Homo sapiens: one gene and its partners. The protein of the gene in region 1 interacts with the protein of each later gene in a pairwise test. Each region holds a gene or a part of one and is shown in the gene's direction. Other genes may lie near its edges.

Evidence for each region.
Region 2: the proteins of CLN8 (region 1) and ZUP1 interact in a two-hybrid assay, tested with the Homo sapiens proteins (one study listed by BioGRID).
Region 3: the proteins of CLN8 (region 1) and USP40 interact in a two-hybrid assay, tested with the Homo sapiens proteins (one study listed by BioGRID).
Region 4: the proteins of CLN8 (region 1) and CYB5B interact in a two-hybrid assay, tested with the Homo sapiens proteins (one study listed by BioGRID).

What each region holds. Positions count from the first base shown.
Region 1 is NC_000008.11:1,773,774-1,780,800, forward strand, and holds part of CLN8 (protein CLN8), read left to right. Parts: exon of another isoform or gene 1-1,423; intron 1,424-6,476; coding exon 6,477-6,794; 3' UTR 6,795-7,027. UniProt on the Homo sapiens protein: Could play a role in cell proliferation during neuronal differentiation and in protection against cell death.
Region 2 is NC_000006.12:116,665,760-116,673,182, reverse strand, and holds the start of ZUP1 (zinc finger-containing ubiquitin peptidase 1), read left to right. Parts: upstream 1-4,416; 5' UTR 4,417-4,617; exon of another isoform or gene 4,618-5,038; intron 5,039-5,975; 5' UTR 5,976-5,990; coding exon 5,991-6,549; intron 6,550-7,423. UniProt on the Homo sapiens protein: Deubiquitinase with endodeubiquitinase activity that specifically interacts with and cleaves 'Lys-63'-linked long polyubiquitin chains. Shows only weak activity against 'Lys-11' and 'Lys-48'-linked chains.
Region 3 is NC_000002.12:233,556,782-233,563,808, reverse strand, and holds part of USP40 (ubiquitin carboxyl-terminal hydrolase 40), read left to right. Parts: intron 1-1,005; coding exon 1,006-1,073; intron 1,074-2,542; exon of another isoform or gene 2,543-2,649; intron 2,650-2,775; coding exon of another isoform or gene 2,776-2,805; exon of another isoform or gene 2,806-3,066; intron 3,067-3,884; coding exon 3,885-3,998; intron 3,999-6,789; coding exon 6,790-6,954; intron 6,955-7,027. UniProt on the Homo sapiens protein: May be catalytically inactive.
Region 4 is NC_000016.10:69,455,592-69,462,618, forward strand, and holds part of CYB5B (cytochrome b5 type B), read left to right. Parts: intron 1-3,501; coding exon 3,502-3,530; intron 3,531-6,838; coding exon 6,839-6,929; 3' UTR 6,930-7,027. UniProt on the Homo sapiens protein: Cytochrome b5 is a membrane-bound hemoprotein functioning as an electron carrier for several membrane-bound oxygenases.

The sequences.
Region 1 (7,027 bases):
CTCACCTGGAAACACCGGACTTCAGGAGTCACTCGGCTGTGGCAGAAAATAAAGTTCTTGAAAGGAAAGCAGAGGCGCTCACTCACATCGATGCCCTAAACATCAATACCACATCAATGTCCCAAGTGGTAAATAGTGACTAAATTATTAATACATCCCACAAGATGGTGTGCTTGAGGTCATTAGTGTATTTTGAGAAATAGATTAATAGTTATCTTGTATTTTATTTTTATTACAAGTTCTTTAAAAACAACAAGAAAGACGTGAGTCTTTCTGTCTCTCCAGTCCTCAGGGGAAAGCAGTGTTGGATTTCTCCAGGGTTTTATCTGTGCTTCTCCTGGAGCCAGGTGTGGGGACAGCGTCTCCAGCAGTTCTCCCTCCCCTGGTGTGGTGGTGGAGCCCAGCCTCCAGGAGGACAGACTCAGCGAGATTTTATTTTGAAGTTTGCACATTCTCTAAAGCTTTTAGGGTGCTGTTTGTGTAGAATGGAGAAAGGGTTATTTAAGTATTTACTTCTAACCCTGCTCATGTTAACTGTATAAAGCCAACAGACCCTAATAAGAGAAAATTATAACCTAAATTAATATAGCTCAGGGCCAGTATGTCTACATAGTTCTATTTTGCTCTAGTTGAAATACTAATAAATGCAGTAAGAAAACACTATGTCTAAAATGTTGAAATTCTTTGAAATTCTTTTAAAGCTGATAGATTCTTGCATAGTAGTAGGGCATGAGGATTCAACATTTCTCCCCCATCAAGGTCTGATTTGATCAGAACTAAAGGATGTAAAGACAAAATATTACCATCAATTTAGGATGGGGGTCTAAGTCAAGCACAGTGGCTTATTCTTCGTATTTCTGTCTTAGATTTGGTTCTACTATTTATCCACAGACTCACTAGTTCATAATACAAATGAGGTGATATAAAAGCACTGTCAGGCCAAGTGCGGTGGCTCACACCTGTAATCCCAGCACTTTGGGAGGCCAAGGCAGGCAGATCACTTGAGCCCGGGAGCTCAAGACCAGCAACATGGCAAAACCTCGTCTCCACAAAAAATACAAACATTAACTGGTCATAGTGGCACACGTCTGTAGTACCAGCCAATTGGGAGGCTAAGGTGGGAGGATCGCCTGGGAGTTCAAGGTTACAGTGAGCTGTGATTACGCCACTGCACTCCAGCCTGGGCAAGAGTGAGACCCTATCTCAAACAAAAACACAACCCGCTGTCAGTTTTTATATATTTTGTATATATACATGTGTGTGTATATATATGTATGTATACAGTCGACCTTCTGTATCCATGGGTTCTGTGTCTGGATTCAACCAACTGTGGATCAAAAATATTTGGGAAAAATTTAAAATAATATAACAATAAAAAATATAACAAATAAATACCAATAAAATGTAACAATTTTATATAGCATTTACATTGTATTAGGTATTATAAGTAATCTACAGATGATTTAAGGAGTAAGGGACAGTGTGCTTAGGTTATATGCACATACAAAGCCATTTTATATAAGGGACTTGAGCATCCGTGGCTTTGGGTATCTGCAGGGAGCCCAGGAACCAGTCCCCCAAGGATACTGAGGGTGACTGTATATTTAAGTATAGATGTAACTGCCGGGCTCCAGAGCTTTGCATGTGTTATGTCACAGATTTTGTTCCTGTAGATTTTGCTACTCTTCTCAAAGCCTTTGGTGACTTTGACTACAAAAATTTTAGTGCCTTAGTAAAACCAAAGAACTCTTCGGTTCTCAAGCTTTGAGTTTTCTAAACTTAAGGTAGTGATTGCATTCTGATATTACTATTGGTAATTTAAGATGACTACTTTCAGTAAGTGAGGAAAATGGTGGAGGAGAACTTTTTGTGAATTGTGAGGGAATGGTGAGTGAATAAAGACTGAGCTCGCGAGAGTCTGGGGCTGAGTGCACAGTGTACTGTACAGTTCATCACTGTGTGGGGCCTTCCAGCTACTGTAGAGGATTCTGATGTTCAGAACATCGACTCTTCAGTGTTTTGTCTTCAGACACACACTCTTTTCACTCCTGTTGATACTGTACGCTCTCTTGAGGAGCAATGAGCACTCTTGCAGGCCCTGTGCCAGGTGCCGGGTCATAACAAAGACGATTCTCAGTCTTCCGTAAGTGGGAATCTGTGGGAGGCACATATGCATGTGGTGCGGCACACACGACAGAAGATTCTGGAAGCTGAATCTGTGAGGGGCACACGTGTGTGGTGGTGCTCCAGCACACACGATAGAAGATTCTGCAAGCTGAGTCTGTGAGGGGCACACGTGGGTGGTGGTGCTCCACACACATGATGACAGAAGATTCTGGAAGCTGGAATCTGTGAGGGGCACACATGCGTGGCAGTGCCCCGGCACACAAATGATGACAAAAGATTTTGGAAGCTGGAATCTGTCAGGGGGATACTTGCATGTGACTGTGCTTCTGTTCACAGAGAAGGTTCTGGAAGCTGGAATCTGTGAGGGGCAGCTGTATGTGTGGTAATGCTCCAGTACACATGTGATGACAGAAGGTTCTGGAAGGTGAACTCTGTGAGGGTTGGGTATGCATGTGGCCCCGCTCCTGTACACACACATGTGATAACAGAAGGTTCTGGAAGGTGAAATCTGTGAGGGTTGGATATGCATGTGGCCCTGCTCCAATATACACACATGATGATAGAAGGTTCTGGAAGGTGAAATCTGTGCGGGCAGATGTGTGTGTGGCCTTGCTCCAGTACACACACACACGTGATGACAGAAGGTTCTGGAATCTGGACTCTGTGAGGGGCGCACGTTTGTGTAGCGATGCTGCAGTCCATTGCGTGGCAGAAGGAGCATTGTCTTTCCTTTGGTTTTTGTCAGCTCTTTGTTTACTTGATAAATGCTTGAGTGTCTTCAGTTTGATAACTAGCAAAGGAAAACAGCGTGTGAGACTTCTGGTGTCCTTGCGGCTCCATGCATAGGTCTGTGCCTGACTGCAGTGCACCCACATGTTCACTCGAACAGGGGTACTTGGATTGTCTTAGCCACGCTGTTCATTTGGCCTCAGACTGAGTCCTACTGAAGTCCCATCATCAGTGGAAAGGGCTTGTGAGCTGAGTTTGTCCACGCAGCAGAAGGGTGGGCAGCAGTCTGGATGGTTTACACAGACACGGTGAGAGACGTTACCCGGACGCAAAAGAGTACACAGCGTGTGATACCGTTCCATGTACAGTCATACGTTGCTTAACGACGGGCTGTGTTCTGAGAAATGTGTCCTTAGGCTATTTTGTCATCGAGTGGCCGTCATAGAGTACCTTTCTACATGTCTAAGCCAACTCCACACTCGGCTCTATGCGACAAAGCCCATTGTTCCCAGGCTGCATACCTGTACAGCATATGGCTGTACTGAATACTGTAGGCAAGTGTAACACAACTGTAAATATTTGTGTATCTAAACATACCTAAACATAGAAAGGTATAGTAAAAATACCATGTTAAAGATGAAAAATGGCACACCTGTGCAGGGCGTTCACTGGGAATGGAGCTTGCAGGACTGGAAGCTGCTCTGCGAGAGTCACAATGAGTGGTGAGTGTGAGGGCCTAGAACGTCACTGTACTCTCCTATAGACTTTATGAACTCTGTGTACTTAAGCAATGCTAAATTTATATAAAAAAATTTCTTTAATCATAAAGTAACCTTAACTTACTGTAACATTTTTACTTTATAAATTTTTAATTTTTTAAACTTTTCCACTCTTTTGTAATAACACTTAGCTTAAAACACAAATACATTGTGTGTATATATATATATTCTTTATACCCTTATTCTGTAAGCTTTTCTTAATTTTCGAAACTTTTTTTTAAATTGTTGAAATCTAAGATGCAAATACACATTCATCCAGCCCTGCACAGGGTCAGGATCATCCATATCACTGTCTTCCACCTCCACACCTTGTCCCACTGGAGAGACTTCAGGGGCAGTAACAGACATGGGGCTGCTACCTCCTATGGTGACAGTGCCTTCTTCTGGACCCTCCTGAAAGACCTGCCTGGGGCTGTTTATAGTTAACTTTATTTTCATCAGAGAAGGAGTACACTCCAAGATAATGATAAAAAGTATAGTATAGTAAAATAGTAAATGATAGGAATTGTTCAGCTCCATTATAATCTTGTGTGGAACCACTGTCTATACACTGTGCGTTGTTGACTGAAATAAAGGCGCTGAGCCCTGGGCACTGCTGTAGGTGCAGTTGTCCAGCCTCACCTGGGTGTGGGCCCACCTGGTACTGCCGCTATGGGTCTGAGGGAGGTGTGAGATCGAAAACTTGCCTGTGCCAAAGTCCAGCATTGTCCTTCACCACTTATGGACCTGGTGGTTGTGGCCAGTTGTCAGAGTGACTATACTGTTTACCACCCAGACAAGGATGTCAGGGACTGCCCCAGGCAAACCAGGATCTGCAGTCACCCCAGGGTCTGAGAACCAGCTATATTTGTGACTTTTGCTTTGGACATATCAAAAACCTCCAAGAACTTGTAGCCTAACTCTATAATTTCACAAGTAAGAAATAAGTTATAGTATTAACTCTTCACATTTCATTTCAATCCCATGTCACTTAACCATCCGGAACTGACAGCCATAGGTTCTTCTGGTCTGTGGGTTTCTCCCCTGTCCCATTCAGTTTGGAGGCTCCAGGCTTGTTTTGGATCCTGCTTCCTCTGCTCTTCTTCCTGAGTGTTCACTGTGCCTCAGCAATGCTGAGTGCGGTGAAGCATGTGGTCCTGGCCCACCTTGAGGTGGCCCCAACCACAGGTGGGAGTGTTTCATTTGCACCTGGGGTTGGGGTGAACTAAGTGCTTGGTATGTTTGTGGAAAGCCGCACTGGCGGTCTCTGAAGGCGTGTGTGTGCATGAGGGTGCCGTGATGCACATGCGAGAGCCCTGAGGTCCCCTCTGAGACCTGGGAAGGACTCCCGTGACAGTTGTATGAGGCAGGCTGGGTTACTCCATTCCGCTGGCCTTTCTCTTCTAATTGTCCTCACATTAATTTTTTCAGTCCAGACTTAGAATAGATGCTCTTTGACTCAGGATGGGGTTACATCCCAATAAGCCCACCATAAGTTAAAAATATTGTGTCAGAAATGTGCAGCCTCCCGAACATCATGGTATATAGCCTGGCCTGCCTTTAACATGCCCAGAAGACTTGGATCAGCCTACGTTTGAGCAAAATCATATAGCACAAAGCCTGTTTTACAACAGAATGCTGAACAGCTCATGTAATTCAGTGAATGCTCTACTGAAAGTTGAAACAATGGTTGTGTGGGTACTTGAAGTACAGTTTCTACTGAGTGTGTATCATCTTTGCACCATAAAATCAAACAATTGTAAGTCAAACCATTGTGAGTAGGGGACTGTCTATAACAGCTAATATACCTGGGGCTTTAAATATTCAAAAACACCAGAAGAACGTGTTAGAATTTTTTATTTTATTTTATTTTTTTGAGACAGTCTTGCTCTTTCTCCAGACTAGATTGCAGTGGCACGATCTCAGCTCAGTGCAGTCTCTGCCTCCCAGGTTCAAATGATTCTCATGACTCAGCTTCCCAAATTAGCTGGGATTACATGGTGCGCCACCATGCCTGGCTAATTTTTTTGTATTTTTATTAGAAATGGGGCTTCGCCATGTTGGCCAGGCTGGTCTCAAACTTCTGACTTCAAGTGATCTACCCACTTCGGCCTCCCAAAGTGCTGGGATTATAGGCGTGAGCCACCGTGCCTGGCCCAAGTTAGAATATTTTGCCGGGGAGGTATACTGTATTAGTCAGCTCAGGCTGCCACAGCAGACTGCCATAGACTAGGCAGCTGGAATAGCAGAAATTCCTTTCTCACAGTTTTGGAGGCTGCAAGTCTGAGATCAAGGCACCAGCAGATTCATGTCTGGTGAAGACCCACTTCCTGGTTTACATGGCCACCTTCTGGCTGTGTCCTAGCATGGAGGAGGGGAAGGCTCTGGTCTCTTTCTCTTCTTATGACACTAATCTCATCATGGGGCCTTACCCCCATGACCTCATCACTTCCCAGGGTCTAGGTATGGGAGCTTGATATACCTGTGTCTGGTTTTGCCAAATAAGTATTGTTTATTTACTTAATATGAGAAAATTCAAGATAAAACAAAGATTGAAGGGATACTGAAAGAAAGGTTGAATTTATCATAGCTTTAGGGAGCAGAAGCCAAAGAGCAAGAGGAGCAGGAAAACAGCATGAGCGGGCAAGGGTCAGCCCTGCTGGCCCAGGTGCGCCCACAGAGCTGGTGGCCTCCTTTCAGAATGAAGTCCCAATGAGAGCAGAGCCCTGGGGAGGAAATTCTTTTGCTTTGAAATGAATTTGTTTTGTTTGGTAAGTAAGGTAGCAAATACCTTTTTGTGATGTGAAGAATGAATTTTGGCAGTTTCGCATTGACTTGTGCATTTGTCTTCTCTCCATGCAGGCGGGCTGGTCCGAGTCTCTGTTTTGGAAGCTCAACCAGTGGCTGATGATTCACATGTTTCACTGCCGCATGGTTCTAACCTACCACATGTGGTGGGTGTGTTTCTGGCACTGGGACGGCCTGGTCAGCAGCCTGTATCTGCCTCATTTGACACTGTTCCTTGTCGGACTGGCTCTGCTTACGCTAATCATTAATCCATATTGGACCCATAAGAAGACTCAGCAGCTTCTCAATCCGGTGGACTGGAACTTCGCACAGCCAGAAGCCAAGAGCAGGCCAGAAGGCAACGGGCAGCTGCTGCGGAAGAAGAGGCCATAGCTGCTCCAGCCGGGGCTCCGGGGCGGCAGCAGAGCTGGCACACCGATTCTGGGAAGCCCCGCGAATGATGGCTTTTGAATTAATGAGGCAGTGAATGTTTTGTGTTTACTTCTAAGGGAAATACTAACTTTCTTTCGCATTAGTATTAATTTTGAAGTAGCTACAAAGTATTTTTAAGAAATTATAATTTTATGACTGTCTGGCAGGCTCTGTCAGTTTAGCCGCGCCGGACC
Region 2 (7,423 bases), on another chromosome or scaffold:
AGGAATTTTCCAACCTCCTGCCTTGGAGGCAGAAATCACATATCAAGATGTGATGGGGGAAAAGGAGCAAGAGGTTCATAATTTAGTATTTAGCCTTCCCTATTTCCCATTTTCAGTCCAGTGCCTTTACCCTAAGGATAGGGTCAAGCCTTTGAACCCCCAGGATAGGGTTCATAGCTGGTTTTTTTGGTTCGTTTTCTTCATGAACTAAATCTGTAGTCTTCTATCTGGAAGGGAAAGAGGAGTCTCATGGCAACCTAGCTGTATTAGAGTTCTTCAGAGAGACATAACCAATACTATATACGAGAGGCAATTTATTAGGGAATTGACACATGATCACAGAGGTGGAAGTCCCACAATAGGCCATCTTGCAAGCTAGAGCACCAGAGAAACTGGTAATGTGGCTCAGTCCCAGCAGCCTCAGAACCAGGGAAGCAGAGGGTTTGGCCCCCACTCTGAGGCTAAAAGCCCAAGAGTTCCTGGGAAGCCACTCGTGCGAATCCCAGTGTCTAAAAGATGAATATGGTGCAATCTGATGTCCAAAAGCAGGAAGGAAAAAGGTGTCTTGTTCCAGAAGGGAGAGAGCAAAGAGAGAGAATTCCCTCTCTTTCCTGTTTGCCCCAGCCTAGCCCTCAGCTGACTGTATGGTGCTTGCCACACTGAGGGTAGGTCTTCCTCTCTCAGTCCACTGACTCACAGGTCAATCTCCTCTGGAAACACCCTCACAGATACAGCTAGAAACAATGCTTCACCAGCCATCTAGGCATCCCTCAATTCAGTCAAGTTGGTAGTGACGGGGTTTCACCATATTGCCCAGGCTGGTCTCAAACTCCTGAGCTCAAGCAATCTGTCTGCCTCGGCTTCCCAAAGTGTAGGATTACAGGTGTGAGCCACCATGCCTGGCCCCATACCTTCCACTTTCTTTGCTTCTTCCCTCATTTGGCGGGAGCTTCCTGGGAAATAATAAGAAATAATGTTTCAGGAGAAATTAACCATCACACTGGTGATGGAGAAAATCTAGAGTTGGAGTTCTAACTGTTCCTTATTCAGACTTTCAGTAAAATGATCCTTTATTTAGTTCCAAATGTCACCATCATTTTTAGAAGTATCTTGTGTTTAATTTCTGGAATTTTCAGATTTCTGGGAAGGAGGAGTGTATTAAGATGGAGTAGGGACCCTACTTAGGGGCCCGTGGGCAACCCCCAAGCATGGAAATAAAGGAAAATATTGAGTTCCTTCAAGGAAAATTCCAGGAACCTAGCTAGCGCTGAGAAATAAATGAGCAATTTGATAAACAAAAAGGTAATAGTAGCTTAAAACATTGGCCCAAAAAAGTCAGGAGATGTTTTATTCCCTATAGAAACTTAAGATAACATTTTAACATATGTCCCTGGGTTGTTTTCCAGAAACCCAGATCCCCCACCAAACAGATCTACTGTCCAACATGATTTGACCCCTGATAATGGGAAACTGAAGACTAAATCCTGATCGCTGTTCTTTGTTCTGAATTTCTTCCTGAGGGGCCTGGAGGAGATCACACCCCTGAGCGAGAGCTAATATTCTTTTCTGCTGATCCCAAATTTTTAGACAAAGCTTTGCCTCCTTAGCAAATCAAACGTCAGAAAATCTTTGAATCCACCTGTAACCTGTGCCCCGAACCACTTCAAGATGTCCAGCCTTTTAAAATCAAACCAACGTATAGCTTCCGTGTATTGATTTATGACGTCGCCTGTAACCTCTGCCTCCTCACCTTTAAAAACTCTTACCTGTAAGCAATGTGGGAGTTCAGGTCTTAAGCATGAGCTACTCAATTCTCCTTCCTTGGTGCCCTACAATAAATGCCTCAACTTTCTCTTGCTGCTATCCCAGTGTCAGTGTTTGGCTGTGCTGTGCTGGGCAAGCAGACCCCAGCTGCTGTGCTGGGCAAGCAGAAACCCATACAAGTCAAGACAGTATGACTTGACTTGGTTTTTGTTGACATCGGTTCTGAGTTAAGTTCGTTATTAATCATTCATCTTTTTTTAGCTTTCAAAGTTTTGTAAAATCTCATTAGCTGTTAGTAGTATTATTTTTATTTTCCTGCTATCATTTTAATAGATTTTGAGAGGCAGAGAAATATAAATTTACATGTTTAATCTTCCATGTTTGTCCACAAATTTCCAGAACGATTTTTTTTTTTGAGACAGGTTCTCATTCTGTCGCCCAGATTGGAGTGCAATGGTGCCATTATGGCTCACTGCAGCCTCAACCTCCTGGGGCTCAGGTGATCCTCCCACCTCAGTCTCCCGAGTAGCTAGAATTACAGGCCACATCACCACGCCCAGCTAATTTTTGTATTTTTTTGGTTGAGACGGGTTTCTCCATGTTGCCCAGGCTGGTCTGGAATTCCTGGGCTCATGCGATCTGCCCGCCTCTGCCTCCCAAAGTGTTGGGATTACAGGCGTGAGCCACCGCGCCTAGCCAATTTTTAAAAACATACTATTTATCATCAGATAACATCACCCTCCTATTTAAATACCTCACTAGTTTTCTACCAGGTCCTACATGATTTGGCCCCTGTCTACAACCCTAACCTCATCTTGTAATCATTTTTCTCCTTACCACATTATGCTCTGGTCAAAAAGTGTTCTTTTTGCTCCAGCCTTAGGCCTTCGTTCTTGTTATTTTATCTGTCTGAAATGCTATTTCCCCTGTTGGTGTAAGGTTTGTTCATCAGCACACTCAACCCTTCATCAAGACCTTTTCTAAACATTCGTATCTCTATAATCCAGTTTTCTTTTCTTTCTTTCTTTCTTTTTTTTTTTTTTTTTTTGAGACTCAGTCTCAAAAATCTATTGCTCTGTCACTCAGGCTGGAGTGTAGTGGCACGATCTCAGCTCGCTGCAACCTACGCCTCCCGGGTTCAAGCAATTCTCCTGCCTCAGCCTCCCGAGTAGCTGGGATTACAGGCACCTGCCACCACGCCCAGCTAATTTTTGTATTTCTAGTAGAGACGGGCTTTCACCATGTTGGCCAGGCTGGTCTTGAACTCCTGACCTCAAATGATCTGCCCGCCTCGGCCTCCCAAAGTGCTGGGATTACATATGTGAGCCACTGAGCCTGGCCAATCCAGTTTTATTTTCTTCATAGCACTTATCATGATCAGTTAATTTACTTTTTATTTCCTCTACCTCACCAGCATGTAAGCCTCAAAAATCCTGAATTTTGTGTATTTTGATTACTGCTGCAGCTCCTGTTGCAAGCAAAACGCCTTTCTAATAGACACTCTTTAAATATTTGTTGAATGAAATAAAGCCTGAATGACAAGATATTTGTGATTTTGGGCTAACATGGTGGCTCACACTTTGGGAGGCCGAGATGGGAGGATCATTTGAGGCCAGGAGTTCGAGGCTGCGGTGAGCTATTTTAGCCACTGTGCTCTGGCCTGGGTGACAGAAAGAGTCCTCCTCTCTAAAAATACATACATACGGCCGGGCACGGTGGCTCACGCTTGTAATCCCAGCACTTTGGGAGGCCGAGGGGGGCGGATCACGAGGTCAGGAGATCGAGACCATCCGGGATAACACGGTGAAACCCCATCTCTACTAAAAATACAAAAAATTAGTCAGACGTGGTGGCGGGCGCCTGTAGTCCCAGCTACTTGGGAGGCTGAGGCAGGAGAATGGCGTGAACCCGGGAGGCGGAGCTTGCAGTGAGCAGAGATGGCACCACTGCACTCCAGCCTGGGCGACAGAGCAAGACTCCGTCTCAAAAAATATATATATATACATACATACATACATACAAACCAAGATATTTGTTATCTTGTAACCTTGAGGAAAGAACCTGGTATCCTTTACCTTCGGTGCATAGCTGGGAGCTTGATACCTAGCAGCATTATAAACCCTTTATTGATACTAAAATAGAGTGCTACTCAGCAGGCCCTAGTGTAGACTGCTATTTGCCCCAGGACCTGCCCTGTGAACTCATTCAGATTAAGTATGAATGACCTCAGAGCCCGGTTTTCTCTCCTAGCAATTGAGTGGCAGGAAACTCGATGGGAGAAGGAAAAACTCGGAAATGGGAGGAATGCAAAAATGACTACATCTCTCAGGAGATCGAGACCATCCTGGCTAACACGGTGAAACCCCGTCTCTACTAAAAATACAAAAAATTAGCCAGGCATGGTGGCGGGCGCCTGTAGTCCCAGCTACTCGGGAGGCTGAGGCAGGAGAATGGCGTGAACCCGGGAGGCGGAGCTTGCAGTGAGCCGAGATCGCGCACTGCCCTCCAGCCTGGGCAGCAGAGCGAGACTCCGTCTCAAAAAAAAAAAAAAAAAAAAAAGACTACATCTCCCAGAATGCACTGCATAGAGACCGGCGTGGAGCGGCGCATTCTGGGATTACTTCTTTTCCGTGGGAGTAAGGAAGTGCTTTTGAATGAGGTACTGAGGGCCAAGGTGTTGGAAGTTCCTAATTCTTTCCTCGGTTAACTGTGAAACTCTGCGTATTGGGAAGGCCTGGCCTCAGTCATCAGGCCAGGAGAGGTACTGGACGCCGCGCACGCACTCGTCTGCCAGCGAGGCCCAAAGGGGAAGCCTAGCGGAGCTCAGTGTGGCAGCTGCTGGCCTCTGGGCCGGTAAGAATTGATGGTCCCCTCCCTTATTCCCCAGGCCCAAAGCTTTGACCCAGTTAGTGCCTGCTAGTTTCGTGTGCCTGGCTTGTGCCTTTGGCGCGGAACGTTTGGGAGACTCGGCCTTGCGGTCTTCTGACCTCACCCACCACGTACCTAGCTTGGCACTGGGTCCTTCATGCCTCTCACTCGCTTCCTCTGAGGCACCTGGGTACTCTCTTGTCTCTTACCCGCTTAATCTGAGTCCATGTCCAAGTTCATCATTCTGTGTCTGACCGTGTCCCAGCCACCGGAAGAGAAGAAACTCCGGGTGTGACATTAATCCCACTGGGGGCTCGGGAGAACTGCCTTCTAAAATCAGAGACTGTATCCATTTGTCTGGAGAGAAATGAAAAAAATAAGGACAATGTAGGGAGGTATTTTAAAGGTAAATTTATTTAAATGAAGTGATAGTGTCATTACTTTTCCTGTTTGATTTTAAATAGTCTTTAGCTGAACGATGACCTGTAGTAGGAAGGTGGTGGCGAAGTGATTGCTTTTTTTAAAATTATTTTTTTAACACTTTTATGTCAGTAGTCAGTACTTTATTTGTCCATAAAATCCAAAAATAACTACCTTTGGATTTTACAGTAGTCTTTGACTGAACCTCAGAGAGATGAGATTCCTTACCCAAAATGATGAATCTGAAATTATTACCCAGTTCTCTTGACTCTGGAATAAGTGCTTTTTTCTACTATACCACTTCTGCTTTTATTCTTGGGGCTGAGAGTACAGGCTGTGGAGCACGACGGGGTTGGCATTTTGGCTTCCACCTTTTTCTGCTTGTGGTGACCTGTCTGAGCCAGAATTTCTTTATGTGTAGAGCGATAATAATAGTACTTAAATTACAATAATAGCACTTAAATAGCACTTGATACATGTAAGACTCTAAGTTTACAGTGTTAAACTCTACTTGTAAGATGTGTTTATTTACCTCCTCAATATAATCAGCTTCAGTATTCAGTATTTAGATATATCAGTTGATAAATAGGTTTCTTCTCTTCATTTTTTTCTTACCTGATTTATCTTACCTGGACAATTTTTTAAACGTTATTTTTTCTCCACCTTGGGCCAGAGACATTTTTTGAAATATTTTATTTTTAAAATTACTTGTATTCATTATTATTGCCTTTTTTTAAAAAAAAATAAATGAAATTTTGGTTGATATTTATAAATAAGTTTTTGTATTTGAGGAACAGTAAGTACATTGAAAACTTCTTCATCAAAATAATCCAGCGTTAAAGACCAAGTAATTGTCTCAAATCATTTTATGAAACACATTTTTTCTTCAAATCTTTGAAACCTAATGTTATGTTCTTTTCTAGCTACTTGTCAATACCATGCTTTCCTGTAATATTTGTGGTGAAACAGTAACCTCAGAACCAGACATGAAAGCTCACCTAATTGTTCACATGGAAAGTGAAATTATATGTCCATTTTGCAAGTTGTCAGGTGTGAATTATGATGAAATGTGTTTTCATATCGAAACAGCTCATTTTGAGCAGAATACACTTGAAAGAAACTTTGAGAGGATAAATACAGTACAATATGGAACTTCAGATAACAAGAAAGACAACACCCTACAGTGTGGAATGGAAGTTAATTCAAGTATTCTTTCAGGTTGTGCATCTAATCATCCAAAAAATTCAGCTCAAAACCTGACTAAAGATAGTACTTTAAAACATGAAGGCTTCTATTCAGAGAACTTAACTGAATCTAGAAAATTCCTGAAAAGTAGGGAAAAACAGTCCAGCCTGACCGAAATAAAAGGATCTGTTTATGAAACAACATACAGTCCTCCTGAATGTCCATTCTGTGGAAAAATAGAGGAGCACAGTGAAGATATGGAAACTCATGTGAAAACAAAGCATGCCAATCTTTTAGACATTCCATTGGAAGGTAAAGTTTTCATTTCATTATAAATTATAAGTTTACAGCCTCAATTTAATATGTGGTATTTTAAAAGTTGGTTTGTAAGTCAGCTTACTACAGATGTGTTTTGAAATCCATTTTATGTCTATAACATTTTTCATTTGCTGTTACTGAAATATAAAAGTACATTATGGAAAAGAATTTTAATGCAGATATAAAATGTTTCAGCTACATTGAGAGTAGTTTTGGAACTTTCTGTCTAGTTTCCAGAGGGTATTCTTTTTATTGTCACTAACCCAGTAGCATCTGGACTGTCCTGGACTCTCTGACTTTGCATTGAGTTCTATTTTGACTCCATTATTCTGTTATGATTGGAGAACAAACTCTCTGTGATATCAGTTCTTTTAAATTTGTTGAGGCCTGTTTTATGGCTCAAGACACGAGCTATCTTGGTCATGTTCTGTGGATACTTGGGAAAAAAAAGTGTATTCTGCTTTGTTGGGTGGAATGTTATATGTATGTCACTAGATCCTGTTGTTTATGTTCAGATTATTTATATCCTTGCTTGTTTTCTATAGTAGTACTGTCTAGTAGTTCTATCAATTTTTGAGAAGGGGTTGTTGAAATCCCTGATTATAATTGTAAATTTATCTATTTTTCCTTTCAGCTCTGTCAGGTTTTGTTTCATGTATTTTGAGACTCTATTGTTGGTGTGTACACATTTAGGATCTTATGTCTTTTTCTTATTGTTGAACTTTAAGAATTTGTGGAGCCAGGTGTTGTGGCTCATGCCTGTAATCCCAGCAAGTTGAGAGTCCGAGGTGGGCAGATCCCTTGAGTCCAGGAGTTCGAGACGATCCTGGGCAATGTGGCAAAAGCTCGTCTCTTCAAAAAAAAAAAA
Region 3 (7,027 bases), on another chromosome or scaffold:
GACATCTTAGTGCACAATGTGCACTGCTTGTATAGCTTAGCCTGAATCCTGATGGTGACTGACAGGGAGGTATAATTTGGAAAGAATAAGGACTGTCAGAGAACTGGCGGGGGAAATTTTGGAATAGTATTTTAAATAATAGGGCTACATTGGGTTCCATTGTACTCCATTACAATGTAGCTGAGAGTACTGGGAGATTATTATAAAAGTTTTTGTATGGTTTTATGCTTTAACTTGTAGATTTGTAGTTCATTTTTGCCGAGTCCCAGCACTTAGAAAGAATATAACATTCATTAACAGTAAGCACTAGGGTAGCAATAGTTTTTCAATAGGGAGACACATTTATCCCATTCCTTGTATCCCTAGAGTATATCAGAGTTTCCCAGTAAGAGTTCCTACCTAGGCTCGGATACAGACTTCTCAAAAGATTCAGGTATGCCCCATTGGGTGGCACATCACCTAGATGTTGGGTGATAAAGAAATTCTGGAGACTCGCATGGGGTTGCCAACTTCTTTTTCCAGATAAGACCACTGCCATCTGTTATTACCTTCAACACGGAAAAGACATTTTCACACCAAAAAAAAGGGCATCTCAGAGTAAAAGAGGATCCTTCCCACGAAAGGATGTTTGTTAGCCTTACATGTGGCAGGAAAACTGCAACACTACTGTATTTCCTGAGATTCTTGGGCTTTTGGGACCTGATGCCATAGACAGTGGGAAGCCATGAAAGATTTCTGATGTTACTGTTTTTAGTTTTATGCATAAAGATTATTTTCCTTTCCTAGAATTAGGAAATGCTGAAGCCTTAGCATGACACTATTTTCTTAGAGTCACTGGTTAAAAATGTTACAAGAAAGTAAAGTGTATAGAGTAAGGTATAAATATTGCCACAATCATATTTCTGAATCTACTTGATTTTACTTAAAGGTGGTCTTGGCTTTCTAAAACAATTTTTTAAAATGAAATGATGTCATTTGCATCTCTGATTCTACCTTTTTCTTTAGAAGCTCTATTTTCTCTTGGCCCAGAAGAGCTTGGTTTGTTTGAAGATAAGGATAAACCCGATGCAAAGGTATTTTTATTATTATTATTATTATACTTTAAGTTTTAGGGTACATGTGCACAATGTGCAGGTTAGTTACATATGTATACATGTGCCATGCTGGTGCGCTGCACCCACTAACTCATCATCTAGCATTAGGTATACCTCCCAATGCTATCCCTCCCCCCTCCCCCCAACCCACAACAGTCCCCAGAGTGTGATGTTCCCCTTCCTGTGTCCATGTGTTCTCATTGTTCAATTCCCACCTACGAGTGAGAATATGTGGTGTTTGGTTTTTTGTTCTTGCGATAGTTTACTGAGAATGATGATTTCCAATTTCATCCATGTCCCTACAAAGGACATGAACTCATCATTTTTTATGGCTGCATAGTATTCCATGGTGTATATGTGCCACAGTTTCTTAATCCAGTCTATCATTGTTGGACATTTGGGTTGGTTCCAAGTCTTTGCTATTGTGAATAATGCCACAATAAACATACGTGTGCATGTGTCTTTATAGCAGCATGATTTATAGTCCTTTGGGTATATACCCAGTAATGGGATGGCTGGGTCAAATGGTATTTCTAGTTCTAGATCCCTGAGGAATCGCCACACTGACTTCCACAATGGTTGAACTACAGTCCCACCAACAGTGTAAAAGTGTTCCTATTTCTCCACATCCTCTCCAGCACCTGTTGTTTCCTGACTTTTTAATGATTGCCATTCTAACTGGTGTGAGGTGGTATCTCATTGTGGTTTTGATTTGCATTTCTCTGATGGCCAGTGATGATGAGCATTTTTTCATGTGTTTTTTGGCTGCATAAATGTCTTCTTTTGAGAAGTGTCTGTTCATGTCCTTCGCCCACTTTTTGATGGGGTTGTTTGTTTTTTTCTTGTAAATTTGTTTGAGTTCATTGTAGATTCTGGATATTAGCCCTTTTGTCAGATGAGTAGGTTGCGAAAATTTTCTCCCATTTTGTAGGTTGCCTGTTCACTCTGATGGTAGTTTCTTTTGCTGTGCAGAAGCTCTTTAGTTTAATTAGATCCCATTTGTCAATTTTGTCTTTGGTTGCCATTGCTTTTGGTGTTTTAGACATGAAGTCCTTACCCATGCGTATGTCCTGAATGGTAATGCCTAGGTTTTCTTCTAGGGTTTTTATGGTTTTAGGTCTAACGTTTAAGTCTTTAATCCATCTTGAATTGATTTTTGTATAAGGTGTAAGGAAGGGATCCAGTTTCAGCTTTCTACATATGGCTAGCCAGTTTTCCCAGCACCATTTATTAAATAGGGAATCCTTTCCCCATTGCTTGTTTTTCTCAGGTTTGTCAAAGATCAGATAGTTGTAGATATGTGGCATTATTTGTGAGGGCTCTGTTCTGTTGCATTGATCTATATCTCTGTTTTGGTACCAGTACCATGCTGTTTTGGTTACTGTACCCTTGTAGTATAGTTTGAAGTCAGGTAGTGTGATGCCTCCAGCTTTGTTCTTTTGGCTTAGGATTGACTTGGCGATGCGGGCTCTTTTTTGGTTCCATATGAACTTTATTTTCTCTTGGCCCAGAAGAGCTTGGTTTGTTTGAAGATAAGGATAAACCCGATGCAAAGGTATTACATCTATGATTTACTGGGGTGTTTTAGCGTATTCAGAAAATTTTTTTTAAAGAAGGAATTAAGTGGCTTGTTCACAAAGCAATAATTTTATTAATTATCAAATATGCTCTTTATTTCCAGAAAGTGACTTGGCCTATACCCTATGGGTAATGGAATTTGCCTTCCGAGAAAGAATCAGTTTTCCAAGTACAATACTGCTACTGCTTTATAAACATGTAACACTCTTTACTATGCTTATTCTTTCTTCTGGTGAAGGAAATATTTGCAGAACATCCACATTAGCTTCCCCCAGAAGTCTATTTAAAGCACTTTTTTTGCAACAATACCGACCTCTCCACCCCACACAAAAAAAAATAGAGGCTAGTATTCTTTCAATTTGGTACTCTGGAAATAAATTGAGTAATGAGTTAATTATTTTGTTTGTTATTGTGGTGATATTTAAAGTGCATATCTAATCATGTTCCTCCCTGCTTAAACATAACTCAAAAGTTTCTTACCATGTTCAGGCTCAAATTTGTACTTCTTAGGAGTCTTTCATGATCTAGCCCAGTACTTCTCAGGCTACCTGTGTGGCAAAGGACCTGTTTTTGTGTATTTCTTTTTATTCCCAATCTGTTGCAGATTAGCACTTTTCTAGTATATAATAAAAATGCCATGGGAATGTCAAATTGCCATTACAATTTCTAAATGCTTATTCTCCTTTAAATACTTAAAGTCTAGCCTACAGACCAGACTCTGAGCAACATTGCTCAGTCTGCCCCAGCCCTCACCACATCAAGTAAGGCAGGAACTCACTTGGAGCCAGGAGAAAGTGAGGCAGGGTGTGCTGAGAACTCCAGAGCGAGATACAGTATTGTGCCTGGAAAATTTCTACAGAGGGGAAATTGTGTGTATCAGAGGTATTTTAGAGAAATAATGGACTATTAGAAGAGATTCAAACTACTGTCAATCTGTAATCAGTTGAGTGGTTTATTAAGGCCTATTTGAGTTTTAATGTTTGTCTGAACCATATCAAGGTAGAAAACTCCAAATAACTATTATTTTTTAGATTGCATTATAATTTTCACAGAAGAACTGAATCATAATTAGTTTTTCCCTTATAATAGGATATTTATAAACTTTCTCCTGAATGAACTGGGAGATATAAAAAAGCTAGTATGCAGTTGTTTTCAAAAGCCTTAGTCAACACTTAAAGAATTCATTTAGAAATGTGTTTGTTTCTCATTCAGGTTCGAATCATCCCTTTACAGTTACAGCGCTTGTTTGCTCAGCTTCTGCTCTTAGACCAGGAAGCTGCATCCACAGCAGACCTCACTGACAGCTTTGGGTGGACCAGTAATGAGGTACGAGGATCAGCTCTTTAAGGAAGAGTTACCAGCAATAGAGGAAAGAATAAGGCTGGTTTAATGTTATCTAACTTCCTTTAATTTTGTCTTAGGGTCTCAACATATTGTTTGAATGTTTCCTTCTCACATTAAAAAATTACAAGCCAGAAATATATATTTTTAGACACTTGCTGTATACAGGATTTTATGAATGGCTGTGATTTGGGGCTGGGGAGAAGATTGGAAAAACGGGGAGAAGTACAAGAGCTGATTTTTACAATTTCTACCCTAAGAGTCTTTATGTAGTCTAGTTGAGATACAACACCGATTACATGGAGATTACCTACCATTTATATAGGAAACTGTTGATCAGTTTTTTAGTCTTTGACCAACAATAATGGATCAATTACATTGTAAGTAAATTTTTAAAAATTCTTTGTTTGTTATGTGCTTTGTGTTTGAATCCACATGTTCTGATTTGAAGGTTTGCTTCAGTCAAAAAAGTGAAATGGTTCTTGGCAGGTCTTTTTATTCCTGTCCTGACTTTCTCCTGACCTTCTCCATTTTCTTTATGAATCTTGTTGTATGTGGGCTTTCTCTCACTTTCCTGTTTGAGTTCTAAAAGGCATTCTACTGTATACGAACACTACACACTTGTCAGCAATGAGTAAAGGTGCTTGTTGCACATATTGATGAGCTGTTATAGCTATACAAATCCAAACAAATCCCAGTCTACCATTTTTATATGGAATAGATGGATGTAATCCTGCAAAGACAGGTATAGGCAACTGTCACAGAAGTTAAAGAGCAAACGATAGGAATACTGTTATATTGCCTTTAATGGTAAACTCTGAAGGGTAGTCTTCTAACCAGGAACACTTCTTAACTAGGTGATACTAACTATGTGATTAAGGAGGTAAGGCATGGACTTTCAAGCAAAATGGGGTATAATACATTCCCTAAACAAGTATGTTAAATTTCTGGTGTAGGGCTGGTATTTGGCGTTAATCCGATTAACAACAAAAACAAACAAACAAAAAAAACACTGTATTGAGATGTAATTTACATGCCACAGAATTCACTCTTTTAAGTGGTACAGTTCAGTGGTGCTTTCTAGCATATTCACAGAGTTGTTCAACCATCACTACAATCAATTTTAGAAAATTTTTACCACCCCAAAAAGAAACTCCATACCCGTTAGCAGTAACTTTCCATCCCCCTCAACTCAGCCGCTGGCAACCACTGACCTCCTTTCTGTCTCTATGAATTTGCCTATTCTGGACATTTCATAGAAATGGAGTGATCCAATAGGTGGTCTCGTAACAGTCTTCTTTCACTTAAAGTACTGTTCTCAGGGTTCATTCATGTTGTAGTATGTGTCGATACTTCATTCCATTTTATTGCCAAATGAGATTCTATTAGATGGATATGCCACATGTTTTTTGTTTTTTTTTTTTAATCTAGTCATTGGTTGATAGATTTTTCTTTGTTTTTGATAATGAGCTTCACTAAGTTGCTGGTTTCTTCTTAATGCTGTGAAAATTTTTTTTGTTTTTTGTCTAAATAAGATCTTGCAGAAAACCCTCTAGGACTGGACCTGCAGTGGTAGGAGAAGGTCTCTGTGGTACCTTTGCGAAGTGTAGGATTGTTTAGGAACAGAGCTTGAAAACTTCCACAAGTTTTCTATCCCATCATAGCCAGTGATATTAGATAAATTACATCCTTGAGGGTCTTGTATTTTAAAAGGCAAGATAGAAGTCCTCCAGCTTTCATCCACTTTATCTGCTGCTCTTCACACAAAACTTTTTTTTTTTTTTTTTTTTTTTTGAGATGAGGTCTCACTGTCACCAGCCTGGAGTGCAATGGCATGATCATAGCTCACTGCAGCCCTGGGTTCAAGGCATCCTGCTGCCTCGGCCTCCCAGGTAGCTGAGATTTTAGGCATGAGCTATTGCTCTTGGTTGAAACTTATTTTTGAAATTGTCTTCCCTTATTGCCTCTGCTTCTGAACTCTCCATTTGTTCCTCTCCTTCCTTTCTACTTTTTTGGTTGAAGTCAACAGTGACATCCCTGTGCCAAGTCCAGAAGACACTTCTCTGTTCTCAGCAGAAGGAGCTCTCAGCAGCACTCACCACCCTCCTTAAAGCCTCAGCTCCTCCTGCTTCCTGGGGCCTCACTCTCCTGGCCCTCCCCCCAGCTGCTCTTCCTCCTCTTCTCCACTTCTCAGTCTTGGTGTGCCCCTTGGTTTGGTTATAAATTTTTCTTAAGCACAAGTTCACACACAACTGCGTGACTCATAATGGATTAAAGCAAGTTCCATCAGGATTTTTTTCTCAGTAACACTGTGTTAGTCTTGTTTTAGTTGTTTTTACTTCAAAGCAGTACATTCTAGTTCTTTTCTATTGTTGATAATTCGGACTATTCACATGTGCTCTGATCTCAGTGAGGTGTTCCTGTGCAGACACTGCCAGCTCTTAGACACTGGTCTGTGCCTGGTATATCCCTCTCTGCTTTCTGTGGCATGGCCATGTGTGTGGTTTCCCACAAGAATAAATGCACATTCTGGGTGTCAAAGGAATTGAGTTACATGTACACACTGAACCCAGCCTGTTCATATTTTCATTTTTTAGTATAAATAAAAATAGGTGGTAATCTCTTAACCAGCTCAGCTTGTTTTGCTGAGTCATTCTTATATCTGATCTTCAGATTGCTTGATAAATCTTGAGTTTTTATTGACTAATGTTTGTTTTTTTAATGTTTTAAAAAATCTGAAGCCCGGAATTACATCTAAAAGTTACCTGTTTTGTAGGAAATGAGGCAACATGATGTGCAGGAACTGAATCGAATCCTCTTCAGCGCTTTGGAAACTTCTTTAGTTGGGACCTCCGGTCATGACCTCATCTATCGTCTGTACCATGGAACCATTGTTAACCAGATTGTTTGTAAAGAATGTAAGAACGTTAGCGAGAGGCAGGTAAATATGCCAGAGTATTTTAGTAATAAGTTATGTTGTAAATTATAATCCATGTAATTAAATGTATGATATA
Region 4 (7,027 bases), on another chromosome or scaffold:
GAGATGGGGTTTCACCATGTTGGCCAGGATGATCTTGATCTCCTGACCTCGTGATCCGCCCACCTTGGCCTCTCATGTAATTCATGCCTGGGATTACAGGCATGAGCCACCGCGACTGGCCTTTTTGTCATTCTCTTAATCTTATCAAATTGGGTCAGTGCTTATGGTGCGACAAGGATCTGGGAAATTACTCCTCTATGTAGCTGGTGGAAGAGAGAAAAATCTACTTACGGTAGTGCTTCTTCAGTCTTCCTAGACATAAGAGAATGGTGTTTTCTTCTCTCTACCCTTTAGAAGCCTGCTGCTCTAGGTTTCACCACAATGTCCTTGGCTCAGAAAATTGTGTTGAGATAATTGAATATGACTTTAGAATTCACATTGATCTGAGCTTTTCGTTTTACAAACGAGGAAACTGATTTATAACATTGGGCTTGAAGATATTAGATATAATTTTAATTTTGAGCAGCTTTATAAATATTCTATTCAGGTATTACAAAATATTTCCTTTTTCCCTAAAAAGTCCGTCTTTTGTGTTTATATGTATATAAATATATTTATTTATTTTTGAGACAGGGTCTTGATCTGTCCTCCAGGCTGGAGTACAGTGGCACAATCCTAGCTCACTATAGCCTTGAACTCCTGGGCTCAGGTGATCCTCCTGCCTCAGCCTTCCCAGTGTTGGGATTCACCAGATGTGAACCAAGGTGCCCAGCCCTACTTATTTATTTTAGTGGGGAATTAAAGCCTTAATGAACCTTGAACTTGAGGAACCAGTTTTATTTAAACAGTTAATTTCCATGAGTTTTGAGCTAAAGTCAGAGTAGACTTAACAGCAATTTGTTTTAGAACCTATAATACCAAAACTCACAGCAATTTTGTTGTTTGCCAGTGTATTCTAAGCTTTTCGAAGAAAAAGAAGCATGCATATTAATTGCTTGGTAGGGGTTATGCTGGAAGAACTTTGGATTTGATTCACCACTTGTAACTAAAATCATAGTATTGCAATTATTACTTTCCAGGCCAAAGATTGAGAGCATTAAAATCTGGGCATGGACATAACCAGCTAGATATGCCTCAATACCTGAAGGGATAAATTAAAGTCAACTATAAACTGTAAGCTTTTCACTTAAGCATCCATTAGCTTTAGTCTAGTGCTTAGCTGTGGAAATGAAGACTGGGGGGAACTGTGCCTAGGGGAAGGGTGGAGGTGAAGGGAGGTTATGTGTTAATAGAACTTTTTTCATTTCAGTTTAAAAACAAGCGATTTGGTTTATTTCCAAATTTGGCTGAGAGTCCTGGCTGCTAAGAGCTGTGCCTTCAACATCTCTTTGATTATTATGTATTTGATTAAAAGTGGGGTCACTATGGTTTGCATCTACTTGGCTATCAGTATCCTAAAGGGAGTGTATGCCTCTTTCTCTTCTCTTTCCTTTAATGGGTTAGACAGGTTGGTCTTTTTTTTGCGTCCCCAGGGATGGATTGATCTTAAAACAGGCACATTTTGCAGTACTTAGTTCAAAGAACACCATATGTTTTAAGTTATTTATTGTTTAGAAATTTTTACATTTCAGCATAGTACGGTTTTGGCTGTCTTTGTTCTCTTTCTTCTTCAGTTGCTTATTACCTTTTTCTAAGGCTCACCCTACTTAGCAGAGATCCAGGGCTTTTGATTGTAAAAGAGGCTAAAAGCTTTGAAATTTAGAGAATCCATTTATATGAAGTATATGATTTTTACTCTAATTATAGATTAAACATCATAATACATATATTATGCTGTGATGCTCTCATATAAGCCTTTCAAATTATCCCTTTTAAAAATAGTAACTACATTTTTTGTCTATAAATCATTGGTATTTATGTAGCTAAAGCATAAAAGACCATGAACATTTTCTTGATGGAATTCAATTATTTCTCGGTTACTGTAGTGGAATATTTATTTTAAAAGGCAGCATTATAAATTAACTTGATGCACATACTACCATCGCTACCACTCCTACCTTCCGAATCTGTAGATAGTAACATTTGTTGTATTTTTCAAAGATTGACTTGTAACTCATTTTAATTAATCGGATCCTTACTAGACTAGTTGAAATGTCCCAGATAATGATAATCATTAAAGTCTTAAAGAAGTATAGAAGTATGTTAATATGGTTTCTTTAAAACCTTTCGTTTGCCATTTTTCTTGCCTACAGACTAATTTCTTTCAGGTTTGGGGCATGTATTCATTTGCATGACAGTGTTTTGGATATATGAAATTAAAACTCATTTCATGGACTGCTCTAAAGTATATTGGGGCCAATGTGATTGGTTTCTGGAAATTCTTGGAGATTATTGAAAACGGTGGTTAAGCAGAGCTAATATTCCATGTTCATACCCTGATATACTTCTACATTTTGCAAAGATGGTATTTTGGGCAGCAGCAACCTATGCTAAAGGGTTATTGTCCTCTGGCAGTAAGTTAGCAGGCCTTTTGTACTATACAGCTGGTTAATGGAATCAATAACTCGTTTGATACTTGAATTGAGTAAAAAAATTGTAATAACAGCTTTATCGTGATACAATTCACATACCATACAGTTTACCTATTTAAAATGTACAAATCAATGGTTTTTAGTGTATTTACAGAACTGTGCAGTCTATTTTAGAACAATTTCCTCACTCCAAGAAGAAACCCCATATTCATTAGCAGTCGTTTTCCATTTCCCCACAACTCGTCCTCCTCACACCAGCCCTAGGCAACCACTACTAATCTACTTCTAACTCTATTGATTGTCCTGTTGTGAACATTTTATGTAAACAGATTTATATAATATGTAGTCTTTTGTGTCTGCTTTCTTTCACTTAGGATAATGCTGTGAAGTTTGTAGCATATATCAATACTTCAGTACTTTTTATTGCCAAGATTTGTTTTTTAAGATTATTTTATCATTTTCTTTCCCTTGACTCCATTTTTTCTCTTTTCATTGTGAAATCAATTCTAAGGTCTCCTGTCATAATTATTATGATTTCAAGGAGTGAACCAGTATATTTTTGTGATCTACAAGCAATCATCTGTATGATCTAGAGCATTTCACAGTTGATCTACATGTTAGAAGAGCTTTTTGGACTTTAAAAAATGTTTTTAGAAAGTGTGATGTTAGCTATTGCCAGTGGCAAGCCCAGCTGAACCAGGTACATCATCATGACCACAGAGTAGTCCATTTCAATATAGTTTGTATCATTAACATTTTTTAACATCTAAAAAAGTTTAGGTCATTTCTATGCTTTCATTAGTGATTCTTCACTAGGAAGGAACCTAGTGAAGTGCCAGTATGTTATCAGAAATAAAATTCCCAGTCTATCCATTGCTTATATATTTGTAAACACCAAAATGCATGAAAGATGAAGTTCTGGTATCAGTTACAGGGTTGACATAGCTTGATCAAGAAAATGTACATGTGCTATGTTAATCTTCTTTCTTTTTGTTTGTTATTTTTGAATTTTTTTTTTTTTTTATTTCAGGACCCTTCAAAAAATGATACATGCAAAAGGTTAGTATCTCCTTAACAGCTTTCCATACGTTCAAGGTAATGTCTGGCAAGAGACTCTTCCATAAGTATATGTATGTAACATAACTTATGAGTGCAGTTTGACAACTAATTCTTTTTTGGCCCAAATCATTGCAAATTCAGTTGTTCCTTGACATTAGAAAAATTAACTTTTACAGTTTCAGCCATTTTGAATAATCTAAAAGTTTCATGCCTTGAGTCATTTTTTAATCTTATTGTGACATAAATTGGAATCACACTCAGTAAGAGGCCAGGATGCATGGACAGGTAGCTACTATTGGGTCAGCCTTTAGTCCCGAAGTTCAACCCAGCTACATGATTCTACTTAAAACTTAATCGCATTTACTTCTCACAACCACTCTGTAAGGTAAGTGCTATTATTACATATTGCAGGAGAAAAAAATACTACGGTCATATTTAGGAATTTGGGTTTTCTCAGGTTTATTTACAATATATTCCTTGGCATTAATATTAGTAATTCATTAGTATTAGCTCTGAAAGTTATAAATTGCCTTACCTTAAGTGCCTCTATCTAAAATGACTGTGGAATCCTTGGCTTGTACAGTATCTTTGTGGAGATTATATAGAGCTAGCCATTCTATTTTTTGGACATCTCGAAGTATTTCAGAGAAAGAAAATATGTCTTTTTTTCCCATAAAGTATCAGATCTATTACTTGAGGTAACGGACACAGTATAAAAAATTACAAACTATTAGTAAATTTAGTTTCCTTAATATTAAGGGCTTAGGATCAGCGAAATGCTGCATAAAAATTTTGAAAATACAAGCCACAAAATTGCAGATTTTAAACAAAACTTATGCTTATGCAGGGCCGGGCGCGGTGGCTCACGCTTGTAATCCCAGCACTTTGGGAGGCTGAGGCGGGTGGATCATGAGGTCAGGAGTTCGAGACCAGCCTGGACAACATGGCGAAACCCCATCTCTGCTAAAAATACAAAATTAGCTGGGCATGGTGGTGCGAGCTTTGGGAGGCCAAGGCAGGAGAATCGCTTGAACCTTGGGAGGTGGAGGTTGCAGTGAGCCAAGATCGCTCCATTGCACTCCAGCCTGGGCAACGAGAACGAAACTCCATCTCAAAAAAAAAAACCAAACCTTATGCTTATGCTATAAAACTTAGACTTAAGCAAAGCATAAAACTGATAAAGAATTATTAGGTAGAAGATATAAAGAATTCCTACAAATCAGTTTTTTAAAACCTCAGTAGAATATGAGAAAAAGATTTAAGCACTTTACAGAAAAGGAAACACAAATGTAAACATATGGAAATGAGGTTTAATCTCATTCATCATTAGTGATATGTGAATTAAAATCATAGGTATATTTCATACCTAACCAGATTGGTAAAAATTAAAAATTTTGCAAATAAGAGTTGGTTGGAAAGTTTATCACCGACTCTTAAGCACTCCTAGGGTAATGTAAATGAGTATAATCACTTTGGAAAACAGTTTGGCATTATCTAGTAAATTTGATAGGATGACTTAACTTTTGACCCAGCAATTCCATTTCTAATGATATACTTGATAGAAATGTGTGCCCAGGTACACCCAGAAATATATGCAAGAATGTTCATAGCAGTGTTATTCGAGATATTCAAACATCAGAGACAACCCTAATAAATTGTGGTATATTCATACAATGGAATACTACAAAACAATAAAAATAAAGGAATCACAAACATGTAGTAGTCTAGATGGATCTCCAAGAAGAAAAATCTGTCTTATGGTAGGAAGTTATTGTTGAACCTGAATCTCCTGTGATGCAGTATAAATGTATTTCCTCTGGTTCTCTCCTCAGTGGCAGTTAAGTATTAGGAAAGATTATGTGAGGATTGGTGTCAACCATTCTCAGTCTTTTGTACTAAAGAAATTTTCTGGCCGGCGTGGTGGCTCATGCCTGTAGTCTCAGCAAACTGGGAGGCCGAGGTGGGTGGATCACGAGGACGGGCTGAGACAGAAGAATGGCGTGAACCCCAGAGGTGGAGCTTGCAGTGAGCCAAGATCGCGCCACCGCACTCCGGCCTGGGTGACAATGAGACTCCGTCTCAAAAAAAAAAAAAAGAAAGAAAGAAAGAAATTTTCTCCTTCAATGTTTTCTCAAGGATCCTACTTTTGGATTCTTCAGTCTCTTGCGGTTACTCTTCAAGGAGTCTGAATTCATTACTCTTATCAGGAGATTACTTCAGAGTTCCCATGTGCATATTGCTGTTATACGTGCCATATTGCTTGGTTTTGTAAACAAAGCTACCTGGCTGATATTCTAAACTAGTCCAGAGTAGCTTTCTGCTGTACGTAAGCATACAGAGTGCTAGGCATGTTTAGGCAAAGAGAATCATTTTTCTTATGAACTTCAGCTCGTTTTATTGACTTCAAAACCTTTTAATACCAAGACTCATATGTCTTAAGTAGAGGGGCAGCCGGGTCATTTGGATCATGGAAGAATTATACCTTAAAACTAGTGTGCTAATAAGTTCTATTAAAGAATTATTATGTTAAGGAGAATGATGACTGTTCTGAAGCTCCTAAGGAAGGTCTCTTGCAGTACTTTTGAAGCTGCCATTTGCTTCACCCTGTTAGAACTGTATATGCTTTGTGTGTATGTGTATCCTTATTAGTGTCCAAACTTAACTAGGGATTAAGAGGATGGGTTTGGAATCAGACTGTCCAGCTGCCTTTCTAGCTTTGGGATTTGGGGTGCAAAGCTTATATTTCCCTTGTATGAGATGAGAATAATAACCCTATTTCGTAGGTTATCCTATTTCATAAGGATTAAATCTTTAAAATACATATGAAGCAGATAGGATATTTCTGGTAGTTATATTAGATATGATTACTTCCAAATTTATATTGGGATGGATATGTTTTTATACATATATGAAATGTCACATACATAATGGTGTTTTTTCCTGTTTAAAAATGTTTAATTGTAGAATACGTGAAAAGCAAAAGCACAATGAAGAAAATGTGAGAGTATCCATAATCCCTAACTCAGAAATAACCACTATATGACTTTGTAGAAACACATATAGAGGCATTTAAAGACATCTTATTTGATATCATACTATTGGTTGTTTTTAACCTTTTAAAAAATTACTTTGTAATATTGTCACTCCAATTCAAATATTTTTCCCCAACTACTTTGTGATAAAAGCAGTTAAATTTCCCAAAGTAAATAAAAACTCCTTGCCTATATAAAAACATGTGAAAGCTGAAAGATAGTGAACATTTGGCTTAAAATATTAACAACTTTATTGCTTTCTCCCCCTATTCCTAGTTGCTGGGCATATTGGATTTTACCCATCATAGGCGCTGTTCTCTTAGGTTTCCTGTACCGCTACTACACATCGGAAAGCAAATCCTCCTGAGGAGGCCTTGCTGAAGTTAGAAAGTGCATCCACTTTGGGGCGAAAACTAGAGACTTGCTTGGGGGCTGCAGAAGTGCCCTCTCCTCGAATCCTGCCAG